2 linked regions of the Homo sapiens genome follow. The protein of the gene in region 1 purifies or fractionates together with the protein of each later gene. This does not show direct contact. Each region holds a gene or a part of one and is shown on either strand. Other genes may lie near its edges. The genes, in order: ZNF227 and MAP3K20.

Evidence for each region.
Region 2: the proteins of ZNF227 (region 1) and MAP3K20 purify together in Homo sapiens (affinity purification with mass spectrometry; 2 studies listed by BioGRID and IntAct, with this or other methods). This does not show direct contact.

What each region holds. Positions count from the first base shown.
Region 1 is NC_000019.10:44,222,112-44,229,740, forward strand, and holds part of ZNF227 (zinc finger protein 227), read left to right. Parts: intron 1-5,020; exon of another isoform or gene 5,021-6,334; coding exon 6,335-6,461; exon of another isoform or gene 6,462-6,852; intron 6,853-7,621; coding exon 7,622-7,629. UniProt on the Homo sapiens protein: May be involved in transcriptional regulation.
Region 2 is NC_000002.12:173,078,621-173,086,249, reverse strand, and holds part of MAP3K20 (mitogen-activated protein kinase kinase kinase 20), read right to left. Parts: intron 1-7,629. UniProt on the Homo sapiens protein: Stress-activated component of a protein kinase signal transduction cascade that promotes programmed cell death in response to various stress, such as ribosomal stress, osmotic shock and ionizing radiation.

The sequences.
Region 1 (7,629 bases):
ATTGATCTATATCTCTGTTTTGGTACCAGTACCATGCTGTTTTGGTTACTGTAGCCTTGTAGTATAGTTTGAAGTCAGGTAGCATGATGCCTCCAGCTTTGTTCTTTTGGCCTAGGATTGACTTGGCGATGTGGGCTCTTTTTTGGTTCCATATGAACTTTACAGTAGTTTTTTCCTATTCTGTGAAGAAAGTCATTGGTAGCTTGATGGGGATGGCATTGAATCTATAAATTACCTTGGGCAGTATGGACATTTTCACGATATTGATTCTTCCTACCCATGAGCATGGAATGTTCTTCCATTTGTTTGTATCCTCTTTTATTTCATCGAGCAGTGGTTTGTAGTTCTCCTTGAAGAGGTCCTTCACATCCCTTGTAAGTTGGATTCCTAGGTATTTTATTCTCTTTGAAGCAATTGTGAATGGGAGTTCACTCATGATTTGGCTCTCTGTTTGTCTGTTATTGGTGTATAAGAATGCTTGTGATTTTTGTACATTGACTTTGTATCCTGAGACTTTGCTGAAGTTGCTTATCAGCTTAAGGAGATTTTGGGCTGAGACAATGGGGTTTTCTAGATATACAATCATGTCATCTGCAAACAGGGACAATTTGACTTCCTCTTTTCCTAATTGAATACCCTTTATTTCCTTCTCCTGCCTGATTGCCCTGGCCAGAACTTCCAACACTATGTTGAATAGGAGTGGTGAGAGAGGGCACCCCTGTCTTGTGCCAGTTTTCAAAGGGAATGCTTCCAGTTTTTGCCCATTCAGTATGATATTGGCTGTGGGTTTGTCATAGATAGCTCTTATTATTTTGAGATATGTCCCATCAATACCTAATTTATTGAGAGTTTTTAGCATGAAGGGTTGTTGAATTTTGTCAAAGGCCTTTTCTGCATCTATTGAGATAATCATGTGGTTTTTGTCTTTGGGTTTCTTTATATGCTGTATTACATTTATTGATTTGCGTATGTTGAACCAGCCTTGCATCCCAGGGATGAAGCCCACTTGATCATGGTGGATAAGCTTTTTGATGTGCTGCTGGATTTGGTTTGCCAGTATTTTATTGAGGATTTTTACATCAATGTTCATCAAGGATATTGGTCTAAAATTCTCTTTTTTGGTTGTGTCTCTGCCTGGCTTTGGTATCAGGATGATGCTAGCCTCATAAAATGAGTTAGGGAGGATTCCCTCTTTTTCTATTGATTGGAATAGTTTCAGAAGGAATGGTACCAGCTCCTCCTTGTACCTCTGGTAGAATTCTGCTGTGAATCCATCTGGTCCTGGACTCTTTTTGGTTGGTAAGCTATTGATTATTGCCACAATTTCAGAGCCTGTTATTGGTCTATTCAGAGATTCAACTTCTTCCTGGTTTAGTCTTGGGAGGGTGTATGTGTTGAGGAATTTATCCATTTCTTCTAGATTTTCTAATTTATTTGCGTAGAGGTGTTTGTAGTATTCTCTGATGGTAGTTTGTATTTCTGTGGGATCAGTGGTGATATCCCATTTATCATTTTTTATTGGGTCTATTTGATTCTTCTCTCTTTTTTTCTTTATTAGTCTTGCTAGCGGTCTATCAATTTTGTTGATCTTTTCAAAAAACCAGCTCCTGGATTCATTAATTTTTTGAAGGGTTTTTTGTGTCTCTATTTCCTTCAGTTCTGCTCTGATTTTAGTTATTTCTTGCCTTCTGCTAGCTTTTGAATGTGTTAGCTCTTGCTTTTCTAGTTCTTTTAATTGTGATGTTAGGGTGTCAGTTTTGGATCTTTCCTGCTTTCTCTTGTGGGCATTTAGTGCTATAAATTTCCCTCTACACACTGCTTTGAATGCGTCCCAGAGATTCTGGTATGTTGTTCTTTGAAACCAATGAGAACAAAGACACATCTTTATTTCTGCCTTCATTTTGTTATATACCCAGTAGTCATTCAGGAGCAGGTTGTTCAGTTTCCATGTAGTTGAGCAGTTTTGAGTGAGTTTCTTAATCCTGAGTTCTAGTTTGATTACACTGTGGTCTGAGAGACAGACAGTTTGTTATAATTTCTGTTCTTTTACATTTGCTGAGGAGAGCTTTACTTCCAACTATGTGGTCAATTTTGGAATAGTTGTGGTGTGGTGCTGAAAAAAATGTATATTCTGTTGATTTGGGGTGGAGAGTTCTGTAGATGTCTATTAGGTCCACTTGGTGCAGAGCTGAGTTCAATTCCTGGGTATCCTTGTTAACTTTCTGTCTCGTTGATCTGTCTGATGCTGACAGTGGGGTGTTAAAGTCCCCCATTATTATTGTGTGGGTGTCTAAGTCTCTTTGTAGGTCACTCAGGACTTGCTTTATCAATCTGGGTGCTCCTGTATTAGGTGCATATATATTTAGGATAGTTAGCTCTTGTTGAATTGATCCCTTTACCATTATGTAATGGCCTTCTTTGTCTCTTTTGATCTTTGTTGGTTTAAAGTCTGTTTTATCAGAGACAAGGATTGCAACCCCTGCCTTTTTTTTGTTTTCCATTTGCTTGGTAGATCTTCCTCCATCCTTTTATTTTGAGCCTATGTGTGTCTCTGCACGTGAGATGGGTTTCCTGAATACAGCACACTGATGGGTCTTGACTCTTTATCCAATTTGCCAGTCTATGTCTTTTAATTGGTGCATTTAGCCCATTTACATTTAAAGTTAATATTGTTATGTGTGAATTTTGTCCTGTCATTTTGATGTTAGCTGGTTATTTTGCTCGTTAGTTGATGCAGTTTCTTCCTAGCCTTGATGGTCTTTACATTTTGGCATGATTTTGCAGTGGCTGGTACTGGTTGTTCCTTTCCATGTTTAGTGCTTCCTTCAGGAGGTCTTTTAGGGCAGGCCTGGTGGTGACAAAATCTCTCAGCATTTGCTTGTCTGTAAAGTATTTTATTTCTCCTTCACTTATGAAGCTTAGTTTGGCTGGATATGAAATTCTGGGTTGAAAATTCTTTTCTTTAAGAATGTTGAATATTGGCCCCCACTCTCTTCTGGCTTGTAGAGTTTCTGCCGAGAGATCCGCTGTTAGTCTGATGGGCTTCCCTTTGTGGGTAACCTGACCTTTCTCTCTGGCTGCCCTTAACATTTTTTCCTTCATTTCAACTTTGGTGAATCTGACAATTATGTGTCTTGGAGTTGCTCTTCTCGAGGAGTATCTTTGTGGCGTTCTCTGTATTTCCTGAATCTGAATGTTGGCCTGCCTTGCTAGATTGGGGAAGTTCTCTTGGATAATATCCTGCAGAGTGTTTCCAACTTGGTTCCATTCTCCCCGTCACTTTCAGGTACACCAATCAGACGTAGATCTGGTCTTTTCACATAGTCCCATATTTCTTGGAGGCTTTGTTCGTTTCTTTTTATTCTTTTTTCTCTGAACTTCCGTTCTCGCTTCATTTCATTCATTTCATCTTCCATCACTGATACCCTTTCTTCCAGTTGATCGCATCGGCTCCTGAGGCTTCTGCATTCTTCATGTAGTTCTCGAGCCTTGGCTTTCAGCTCCATCAGCTCCTTTAAGCACTTCTCTGTATTGGTTATTCTAGTTATACATTTGTCTAAATTTTTTTCAAAGTTTTTAACTTCTTTGCCATTTGTTTGAATTTCCTCCTGAAGCTCGGAGTAGTTTGATCGTCTGAAGCCTTCTCTCAACTCGTCAAAGTCATTCTCCATCCAGCTTTGTTCCATTGCTGGTGAGGAGCTGCATTCCTTTGGAGGAGGAGAGGCGCTCTGCTTTTTAGAGTTTCCAGTTTTTCTGCTCTGTTTTTTCCCCATCTTTATGGTTTTATCTAGTTTTGGTCTTTGATGCTGGTGATGTACAGATGGGTTTTTGGTGTGGATGTCCTTTCTGTTTGTTAGTGTTCCTTCTAACAGACAGGACCCTCAGCTGCAGGTCTGTTGGAGTTTGCTAGAGGTCCACTCCAGACCCTTTTTGCCTGGGTATCAGCAGCGGTGGCTGCAGAACAGCGGTGGCTGTAGAACAGCAGATATTGGTGATCTGCAAATGCTGCTGCCTGATTGTTCCTCTGGAAGTTTTGTCTCAGAGGAGTACTCAGCTGTGTGAGGTGTCAGTCTGCCCCTACTGGGGGGGTGTCTCCCAGTTAGGCTGCTTGGAGGTCAAGGACCCACTTCAGGAGGCAGTCTGCCGGATCTCAGATCTCCAGCTGCATGCTGGGAGAACCACTACTCTGTTCAAAGCTGTCAGACAGGGACATTTAAGTCTGCAGAGGTTATTGCTGTCTTTTTGTTTGTGCCCTGCCCCTAGAGGTGGAGCCTACAGAGGCAGGCAGGCCTCCTTGAGCTGTGGTGGGCTCCACCCAGTTCGAGCTTCCAGGCTGCTTTGTTTACCTAATCAAGCCTGGGCAATGGCAGGCGCCCTCCCCCAGCCTCGCTGCCTCCTTGCAGTTTGATCTCAGACTGCTGTGCTAGCAATCAGCGAGACTCTGTGGGCGTAGGACCCTCCGAGCCATGTGCAGGATATAATCTCCTGGTGTGCCGTTTTTTAAGTCCATTGGAAAAGCGCAGTATTAGGGTGGGAGTGACCTGATTTTCCAGGTGCCGTCTGTCACCCCTTTCTTTGACTAGGAAAGGGAACTCCTTGACCCCTTGTGCTTCCCAAGTGAGGCAATGCCTCACCCTGCTTTGGCTCACACCCAGTGTGCTGCACCCACTGCCCTGCGCCCACTGTCTGGCACTCCCTAGTGAGATGAACCCAGTACCTCAGATGGAAATGCAGAAATCACCCGTCTTCTGCATTGCTCATGCTGGGAGCTGTAGACCGGAGCTGTTCCTATTCAGCCATCTTGGCTCCACCCCTCAAAACTTTTAAAGTAAATATTCTATGACTTTGCAGTTGCTACTTCTTGGCCATGAGCTCTGTAAAAGGATCTTTGTAGTATTGGTTATAAGTAAAAATCTGTAATTAATTGTACATTATTTGGATTGGTTAGAGATAAATCTTCAGTTCCAAGGAATCCTGTTGTATGTAGTCACAAAATAGGACAAAAGAGATGATAAAGATATGCGTTGTTCGAGTTTATTGAGCATGTATGGTGTGCTAGGCACTTCTAAGTGCTTGACATATATTCATTCATCTGATCCTTTCAAACACTTTATGATCTATTTATTTTAATTCTAAAAATTTATTTATTTTAAGACAGTGTCTCACCCCTGTCACCCAGGCTGGAGTGCAGTGGCGCCATCTTGGCTCACTGCAACCTCCGCTTCCCAGGTTCAAGTGATTCTCCTGCCTCAGCCTCCTGAGTAGCTGGGATTACAGACGCACATCACCACGCCTGGCTAATTTTTTTGTATTTTTAGTAGAGACGGGGTTTCAGCATCTTAGCCAGGCTGGTCTCAAACTCCTGGCCTCAAGTGATTTGCCCGCCTCGGCCTCCCAAAGTGCTGGCATTACAGGTGTGAGCCACTGTGCCTAGCCTGAAAATTTATTTTTAAAAATTGAGACAGGGTCTCACTCTGTTGCCCAGGCTGAAGTGCAGTGGCACAATCATGGCTCACTGCACCGTCAAACTCCTGGGCTGAAGTGATCCTTCTGTGTCAGGCTCATACACCTTATAATTTAGATACAATGATAAAGAAGAGGAAATTCAGTTAGTGAGAGATTAAGGAATTTGCCCAAGGTCCTATAACTAGTAAAAGGCAAAACCTTGAAATTTGAACCTGGCCAGACTCCAGAGCCAGTGCTTTAAATTAAGCAGCTGTGCATCCTGTAGTAGGTGGATGTGACATGTGCCTTGAAAGCACAGGAAGAGCTATATACCTGTCCAGGGGGTTGCTGAAGGCCTGTGAACTTTGCAAACGTTAAAAACAATGATAGGGCCAGGCTCAGTGGCTCACACCTATAATCACAGCACTTTGGGAGGCCAAGGCGGGCAGATCATTGGAGGTCAGGAGTTTGAGACCAGCCTGGCCAACATGGTGAAACCCCGTCTCTACTAAATAAATACAAAAATTAGCCGGGCATGGTAGTAGACGCCTGTAATCCCACCTACTTGGGAGGCTAAGGCAGGAGAATCTCTTGAACCCGGGAGGCGGAGGTTGCAGTGAGCAGAGATTGCGCCACTGCTCCAGCACGGGTGACAGAGTGAGACTCCATCTCAAAAAAGAAAAAAACAAAAAACAGTGATAAACTACAGGCTTTATGGGGATGAGCGTAGGAGATAGTGAGACAGGGAAAACTGTAACAGCTGAAAATTGACTGAGATCTCTTGGAATCTATAACAACTTTTTTGTGGTGCTCTTTTCCTTCTTGATGCCACCCTTCTTCTAGTGAAGGTTGGTTGTAAGATTGAGGTTACATGTGTTTGATATTGTAGGAGGCTGTGACATTCAAGGATGTGGCTGTGGTCTTCTCCAGGGAGGAACTGCGACTGCTCGATCTTACCCAGAGGAAGCTGTACCGAGATGTCATGGTGGAGAACTTCAAGAACCTGGTTGCAGTGGGTGAGGACAGGCACTCTCTGACCCTGAACTTCAGTTCCCTTGAGAATCTCTTTGCTCTCAGGTGTTTAAGGGTTTGGACCTTTTAAAATGGTTCTTTGCTCTTGAAGACAAAAGGTTTTCTAATCCCTGGGAAAACAGGATAGGTTTTTCTGGTCTTTCTGCTCAGGCAAAATTCTGTCCTTTTAAATTGCTGGTTCTCAACCATGGGTGATTTCGCCCCCAGAAGATATTTGGCAATGTCTGGAAATGGTTGTCACACCTGACAGAGGGGTGCTATTGGCATTTTGTGGGTAGTATCCAGGAATTCTGCAAAATCTCCTACAGTGCACAGGACAGTGCCCCCAACAGAGAATTGGCCAGTCCAAAATAGTAGTGCTGCAGTTGCAAAACCCTGTTTTAAATGAACCGTAAATGGACACATTAGCTTCTATGCTTTATCTTTCAAATACGTTGTCTTTCAAATGAAACCCATCAATGCATTAACTTAGTGCACTGTACTGGCTTTTTTTTCAATGAAATAAAACAGATAAGGATAGAAAATATCAGAGCTTCTTATCAGGAACTGCTCACATTGCAACAAAAACTGACAATTTTCAGTGAATGGTGTGAGATACAGCATTGCAAATGTGATGAAAACAGACATTAGCCAAGTATAACTTGAGAGAGAGATATATTATATATATATGAACTAGGCTACAACCTAAATTTCTTATTATAGTTCATGATCTTAAAACATCTTAAAATAAATCACTCTAGAGGCCGGGCATGGTGGCTTACGCCTTTAATTGCAGCAATACGGGAGGCCAGGGTGGGTGGATCACTTGAGGTCACGAGTTCAAGACCATCCTGGCCAACATGGTGAAACCCCATCTCTACTAAAAATGCAAAAATTAGCCGGGTGTGGTGGCAGGTGCCTGTAATCCCAACTACTCGGGAGGCTGAGGCAGGAGACTTGCTTGAACCCTGGAGGCAGAGGTTGCAGTGAGCCGAGATTGTGCCATTGCACTTCAGCCTGGGCGATAGAGTGAGACTCTGTCTCAAAATAAATAAATAAAATAATAAAATATCACTATAGAGGTTGTGAGGCTTATAGGGTTCAGACAAAAATGTGTTTTAGTTGTGTGTTCATCTTAAATACATAAAAATCTACATTTTCATAGGGCATCTT
Region 2 (7,629 bases), on another chromosome or scaffold:
CTACTTGATTAAATTATGTTCTAATTTTTCAAATGTATTCTCCACTTAATGAATATACCAGAATTTAATAAAAAGTCATCTATATAAATTTATTTACATGGTATATCAAATCAAATCCAACGTTTTCATCTCACTGCATTAAAAGAATTGTTTTGGCCAGGCACGGTGGCTCACGCCTATAGTCCCAGCACTTTGGGAAGCCGAGATGGGTGGATCACTTGAGGTCAGGAGTTCGAGACCAGCCTGGTCAACATGGCAAAACCCCATCTCTACTAAAAATGCAAAAATTAGCCAGGCATGGTGGCGTGCATCTGTAATCACAGCTACCTGGGAGGTTGAGGCAGGAGAATTGCTCGAACCGTAGAGGCAGAGGTTACTGTGAGCCAAGATCGCACCACTGCACTCCAGCCTGGACAACAGAGCAAGGCTCTATCTCAAAAAAAAAAAAAAAAAAAAAAAAAAAAATTGCTTTTACACAAAAAAGGCAATTTTGCTCCACGCAACAATGCTCAGTTTTAGTTTTGTAGGATTCTAACTGTTGTTTTATAAACTCTCAAAGCTGTTTTAAATGTTAAGTATCTACCATACAATACTGAAGGGTAAGTTAGAGCAGAAATGTCACAAAAATCAAAGTAAAATAAGGCATCACAACTCTGTAAATGTTGAAAATCAATAATTTGGTGGTTGAATCCAATCATTTCACTACTTGAGTAGAATGTCAAAAAATTTTTAATTTAAAGTTTTCCTTAAATTAAAATTCAAAAACATTTAACTATTAACCAAATTGCTGAAAGCATATATAGCAGCATCACCTAATTATGAAAAGTGGAAACATAAGAAGGTAGGAAATCTTAAAGAATTATTTTACTTTTTAAAGTTTTCAATCTTCTAGTCCAAAAAAATAGACTTAAGTTTCTCTATTCACAGACCTTCTATTTTGCTTCTTGATTTTTCAGATCCATGTTGACCTCAAATAAGTCATTTACCTTTTCACTGTTACTTTTGCCCCAAATTAAAAACAAAAATGACCCCACTACAGTTCTAATGTTAAAAAGCAAGGTTTTAGAATTAGATTGATAGGAGTTTGAACTCTCCCTCCACCTCTCGGTAACTTTAACAAATCACTTTTTCTCAGACTGTGGCATTTCCAGATGCATAAATAAAAAATTTCAAATCTTTTCCATTCAATGTCACAAAACTGATAGCCCCAAAGTTATCAAGTTTGCATAGTATTTGACTTCATTGATACATCTCACTTCCAAATAAGAGATATTTCAACAGGGAAGTAGCATGATTCAGGGTAAAGACCCCTACTAGAGAGATCTATGAGCAGATCTGTTATTAGCTACTTGGGCAAGGCACTGTGTCTCTCTGACCTCACTGTTCTCACTGGCAATAATACCAGTGCTGTGAAAGTGCATACGTGAGCACAGTGCCTAGTATATGGTATACATGCAATTAATGGAAATTATGGTTTTCTCATTATTTTAATAACCCTTGATATCATATTTAGCCATCTATTCCTTCAGTTTTTATGGTCAGGTATGCTCTCAATAGCTTTCCTCTCCCCATTTTCAGAATTGTTTTATATTATATCTCTTAGTTTTGTAGAGCAATTATTAACAAATAAAGGTGCTATTGATCCCTGAATCCTTTCCCTCTCTTTGCCTATTTTCTAATTCTTTCTCATTCCTCTGTTTAACTGCCGTTTTTGGTTTTTGTCATTTCTGAAAGATCTTATTAGTAAGTAATTATAATTTCTTTTAAGCTTTTTTCATAATGTATTTAAATTGCTAAAACACAATACTTTTCTTTTTTTTTTTTTGCACTTTTTGGACATTAGCATTGCTAAGATCTATTTATTCAATGATAGCACTCACTTTGGTAGGGTGCTGGAGCATCCCCTCCTTCCCCAGTGACCACGGTCTTCTTTCAGACATTATCTGCTGCACAGTCAATTGCACGTCTAACCCAAGAAAACTTAACCTGATTATCCAATACCTGCAAGTGATGATTTTTTAAAAAAAATTAAATCTACTTTGGCCGGGCACAGTGGCTCACACCTGCAATCCCAGCATTTTGGGAAGCAGAGGTTGGAGGATCACTTGAGCTCAGCTGGGGCAACATAGGGAGATCTCATTTCTAAAAGTAAAAATAAAAACCTACTTTATGAAAGGATTAACTTTACTAGAAAAAAGGTCTTTGAACTTTCTCTGGATGTTTCTATCTTGTGGTTTTATATGGGCCTATATTTCTGAATTTAGAGCCTTCCTCTTTTCCTGTCCCTAATTCATACTTTCCTTTCCCCCTTCTTCAAAAAGTAAGGTTGCCAGTTTACTTTTTATACAATATAGGAAGAAAAACTTACACGTTTTATCATGACCTGGATGTGACAAAAAAGATACTTTTTGAAAAGAGCTTTCAATATTCAGCAAATTATTTTGCCAAACTTGCTGCCTTGATATTTATGCTAGTATTATTTCAGCCTCTTTAACATAGATCAGTGAATAAATTAATAATATGTGCTTTGTCATCATGTGTATAAAAAGAACACCACTTGGAATCACTGTTCTGCAATTTTTTTCCCCTGAGTCTTATCTTCAAAAAAATGAGGAAAGCTCTGGTTCAGTGTATTTGTCCGTAACACCAAGGTCAAAGATTCAAAGATTCTATTCCTCAACAGGACTGCTGTTCTACTATTTTTTTTTAATCACTAAAAAAGATAAAAGCTGGCTGGGTACAGTGGCTCACACCTGTAATCCCAGCACTCTGCAAGGCTGAGGCAGGAGGATCGCTTGAGCCCAGGAGGTCGAGGCTGCAGTGAGCTATGATTACGCCACTGCACTCCAGCCTGGGTGACAGTGAGACTCTGTCTCAAAAAAAAAAAATAAAAAATAAAAAAATAAAAGTTGCAAGACTAGGTATAGGAACAGAACCAACTTGTACTGTATCTACCAGATATTTCCTTTCTTCCTCCAAGGCTGCTCCTAGAAAAATAGTGTATCTTATACAGAGTAGGTTGGGTTCAGTAAATAGGACTTCAGGCATAGATATCTGAGAGAACCCAACTTTAAATAAGAATCCAAAAAACAGAATAGCCATTGTTTCATATTTTCCCCCTTCCTCTATCTTTACCATATAAAAGTAATGTAACTCTCTAGTTAGAGCAATGGTAAGAATAAAAATAAGCTAAACATTCTTATTGAAATATTAAAGTAATTTAGTAGTGAGGCATTCTTATTGAAATAATTAAAGTAATTTAATAAAAGTCAACTTCCACAACACACTTCCTTACCAAAAGTATTGTTACCAGAAGTAAAAGATGGGAGGCACAGGAATGTAGTTGGTGGGAGCACTTAACGCCACAGAAATGCTGCGTGGAAACATGTCTGTGCTCAAACAGAAGCCCAACAAGGAAACATGAAGTGGATACAACCTACGGCCACGGCATAGGCCGCTGCGTGGGCTTGTTGTGTTGAGTAGCTGGGAGCTTCTTGCAGCATGAGGAAGAGAATGGGGCCAGAGTTGAATAAAGTGAGGGTGCACGGAGAGGGGAGATTTCTAGGGCTTGGCCAGAAGAGGAATTCACAGGTGTCAGGACTGGGGATGAGGAGAAAGCCGTAGCCTATGAGTAAACAAGGCTCACTTCAGTTCGCTACCTCCCACCTATCCTGCCCCCACCCTAGGTCTTGCTGCTACTCAGCCCTTGTTTGTACCCCAAATCGTTTTCTGTCAAATAGAAAGTATCAGACCATCCTGGCTGCTGACAGACAGGTACAACTTTGGACTGAGTGCCTGGAATGAATACTCCCTGAGAAGGGTGAATGCAAGAGTTAAAACATGGTAACCTCAATGTAAGATGAAGGGTGAAAGGAATGGGGATGGTAAAACTAGGGAAGACTAAGACCTTATATTATGTTTTGATGATCAAGAGGCAAGGCTATCTGTGGATGAAAGTTACAGAAAGAATTTCTGGTTCTTTGGGAGGCCAAAGTGGGAGTATCGCTTGAGGTCAGGCATTTAAGACCAACTTGGGCAGCATAGTGAGATCCCATCTGTACAAAAAATGAATAAATAAAAATTAGCCAGGTGTGGTGGTTCATGCCTGTAGTCCCTGCTACTCAAGAGACTGAGGTGGGAGGATAGCTTGGGCCCAAGAGTTCAAGGTTGCCATAAGCTATGATTATGCCACTGCACAAAGTGAGACCCTGTCTCCAAAAAAAAAACAAAGGATTCCTGGTTTAGAGTTGGCCAACAAGAAAATCTGCCACCCTCTTTAGTAGTGAGTGACCCATCACCAAGAGCGTTCAATGGGATATGCGGTGTAGAGTGGGAGTGGGAGACTCTTGCATCAGCTAAGAGGGCAGAATGAAACCACTTTAAGACCCACTCCAACCCTGTTGAGTTGATGACTAATCTACTATAAAGTATAGACGGTCTCCCTCCTTTTCTGAGGGAAGCAGTCATGAACCCGACACCAAACATCATGGAGAAGCACAGTGAACCACATCAGTGATGGAAATAAAGGAAACGATTTGGCCATCTTCTTCAATTTCTCCTCCCAAACTGGGTGAGAAGCTAAGAGCCACATTCCAGGTTTCTATCCTAAAACTTTCCTCTTCCTTCCCCCCAATTCCCAAAGCAAAGAGATCTCTTTGTCTTGAAAGCCATCGTATAACCACCTAACATCAAAACTCTTTGGATGATGATCTACCCCTATTCTTTTATCAGCAAAATGGAATTGCACTACCCCATGCAGTATTGGGCTGCAGAGCTTAATGGTGCAGGACTCTTTATTAGGACCAATCCCATGTTCCTCGTGTGCTTATTCCCATACGTGGTATTACACAGTACTGTGCAGAAGGTGATATGAATAAACAGCTGTCCTACAGCATCAATTTCACTTTAACACTATGGGGAATAAGCCAGGCAAGGTAGCACATACCCTCAGCCCCAGCTACAGGGAAAGTTCAGGTGGGAGGATTGCTAGAGCACAGGAGTTCAAGGCCAGCCTGGACAACATAGCAAGACTCTGTTTCTAAAAAAAAAAAAAAAAAAAATTTGTCTTTTTTAAAATATGTGTCTGTATCGATTTGTTCAATTTAAGTAAAACAGTGTAGGACAGAAGAGAATGCAAAATCCACATAAATTTTTAAGATTAAATATAAAATTTTAAAGCAAGTACTTGCTTGCATTGGGGTATCTGTGGCTATACGGACAAATTCTTGAAGGAAAACATTCATTTATCCCCACAATAGAGTACTTTGGTAGAAAAGTTTAATAAGTAAAGATTTATTACATGACGTGCAGACAGCAATTCTTTCCTTTTCTTTTTGGTTTTCTTAAATGGAAGCCTGGAGATGAGTCCAGAAAGAAGGGTATTGGGGCCTTGCTCAAAATTAGCTATAAAAATGGTTCCAAGTGGTTCTAAAGCACACTTTAGAAACACTTATACTCAAAGCAGGAGAGTAGTTATGAAAACCTACATACCCACTACATAAGTATAACTTGGGAACAGGACAGGGTACCAAAGGCAAGCCTTAGCTGGAAGAGCTGAGTGCTATGGTAGGAATGCTCCCACCAAAATTCATGTTGAAACTTAATTACTTAATCGCTAATGTAACAGTACTGGGAAGCAGAACCTTTAAGAGGTGATTAGGTCATAAATGGATTCTCACTGTTATCCTGGGAGTAGGTTAATTATCTCAGGAGTTCACTTTTTCTCTTTGTCTTTCATGGCTTGCTTTCGCCTTCCACCCTTCCACAATGGGTGATTCTCGCCAGATGCCAGAGCCATGTACCTGGACTTCCCAGGCTCCAGAACCATGAGCCAAATAAATTACCCTTGTTCCTTGTAAATTACCCAGGCTGTGACAGACTGCTCTAGCAGCAGAAAACAGACTAGGACAGTGGGCAAGCAGCTCTGCGTATAACTTGAGAGATGTAGTAAAACATCCTTCTTTACCACATTGATACAGTGGCTGAAATTTCAGGCACTGTTACAAGCATTTCTATGTGCTTTCTCATAAAGTCATGCACCACATAACTATGCTTTAGTCAACAATGGACTGCATATATAACAGCGATCCCATAAGATTGTAATAAAGCTGAAAAATTCCTATTGCTGAGTGATGGCACAGTTTCCTAACATCATAGCACAATGCATTACTCATGTGTTTGTGGTGATGCTGGTGTAAACAAACTTATTATGCTGCCAGCTGTATAAAGGTACGGCACATACAATTATGTACAGTGCACAATGCTTGATAAGGATAATGACTGTGTTACTCATTTATGTATTTACTATACTTTTTATCCTCATTTTAGAGCATACTCTTTCCACTTAAAAAAAAAAAAAAGAAAATTAACTGAGGCAGGTCCTTCAGGAGGTGTCCAGAAGAAGGCATTGTTATCACTGGAGATGGGGAGATGGCAGCTCCATATACATTACTGCCCCTGAAGACCTTCCAGTGAGCCAAGATGTGGAGGTAGAAAACAGTGATATTGACGATCCTAACCCCATGTGGGGCTAGGCTGATGTGTGTGTTTCTGTCTTAGTTTTTAACAAAGTTTAAGAAGCAAAACAAATTTTTTTTTAAATTTAAAAATAGAAAAAAAATCTTACAGAATAAGGATATAAAGAATTTTTGTATAGCTGTACAATGTGTTTGTGTTTTAAGCTAAGTGTTATTTCAAAAGACTCAAAAAGTTAAAAAAAAGTTTAAAGTTTATAAAACAAGAAAGTTACAGCAAGCTAAGGTTAATTTATTATTGAAGAAAAATGTTTAAATAAATCTAGTAGAGCCTAAGTGTACAGTGTTTATAAAGTCTACAGTAGTGTACAGTGATGTCCTGGGCCTTCACATTCCCTCACCACTCACTCACTGACTTGCCCCAAACAACTTCCAGTCCTGCAACCTCCATTCATGGTAAATGCCCTATACGGGTGTACCATTTTTTATCTTTGATACTGTATATTTTATACTGTATTTTTACTGTGCCTTTTCTATTTTTCGATAGAAATACTTATTACTGTGTTACAACTGCCTATTCAGTATAGCAGCATGCTACATAGGTCTGTAGCCTAGGAGCAACGGACTATCTCACACAGCCTAGGTGTGTAGTAGGCTATAGCATCTAGGTTTGTGTAGGTGCACGCTGTGGTATTTACACAACTACAACATCACGTAACAACACAGTTCTCTCAGAACGTATCCCCATCATTAATGGACACATGACTGTACTTATCCTTAGGAAGCAGGTACTACTGTTCCTAACTTACATGAGTGAGAAAACTGAGGATCAGGGGTATGAAAGTAGCTCAAGCCAACTACCTTACAGGTGACACAACTTGTGTCAAATTCAGGCCTGACTCCAAAGTCATATCATTGTTTTCTACCATATCATGTCTTTTTGTTAATAACATTCTGCCTCCTCCTTCTAATTTGCCTTTTGTTTACCCTATTTAAACTATTTTCTTATTACAGTAATTACTGGATTGCTCACCATCCACCTAAAGTTCAATTTGAGGCTTTAATTTCCTATTACAATTGAAGACACTGGGGTTAGGGTGTCAAATGTGGGGCTGCTTTGTTCTCACAGATTCTTCTACTGTGCTGGGATTACTTA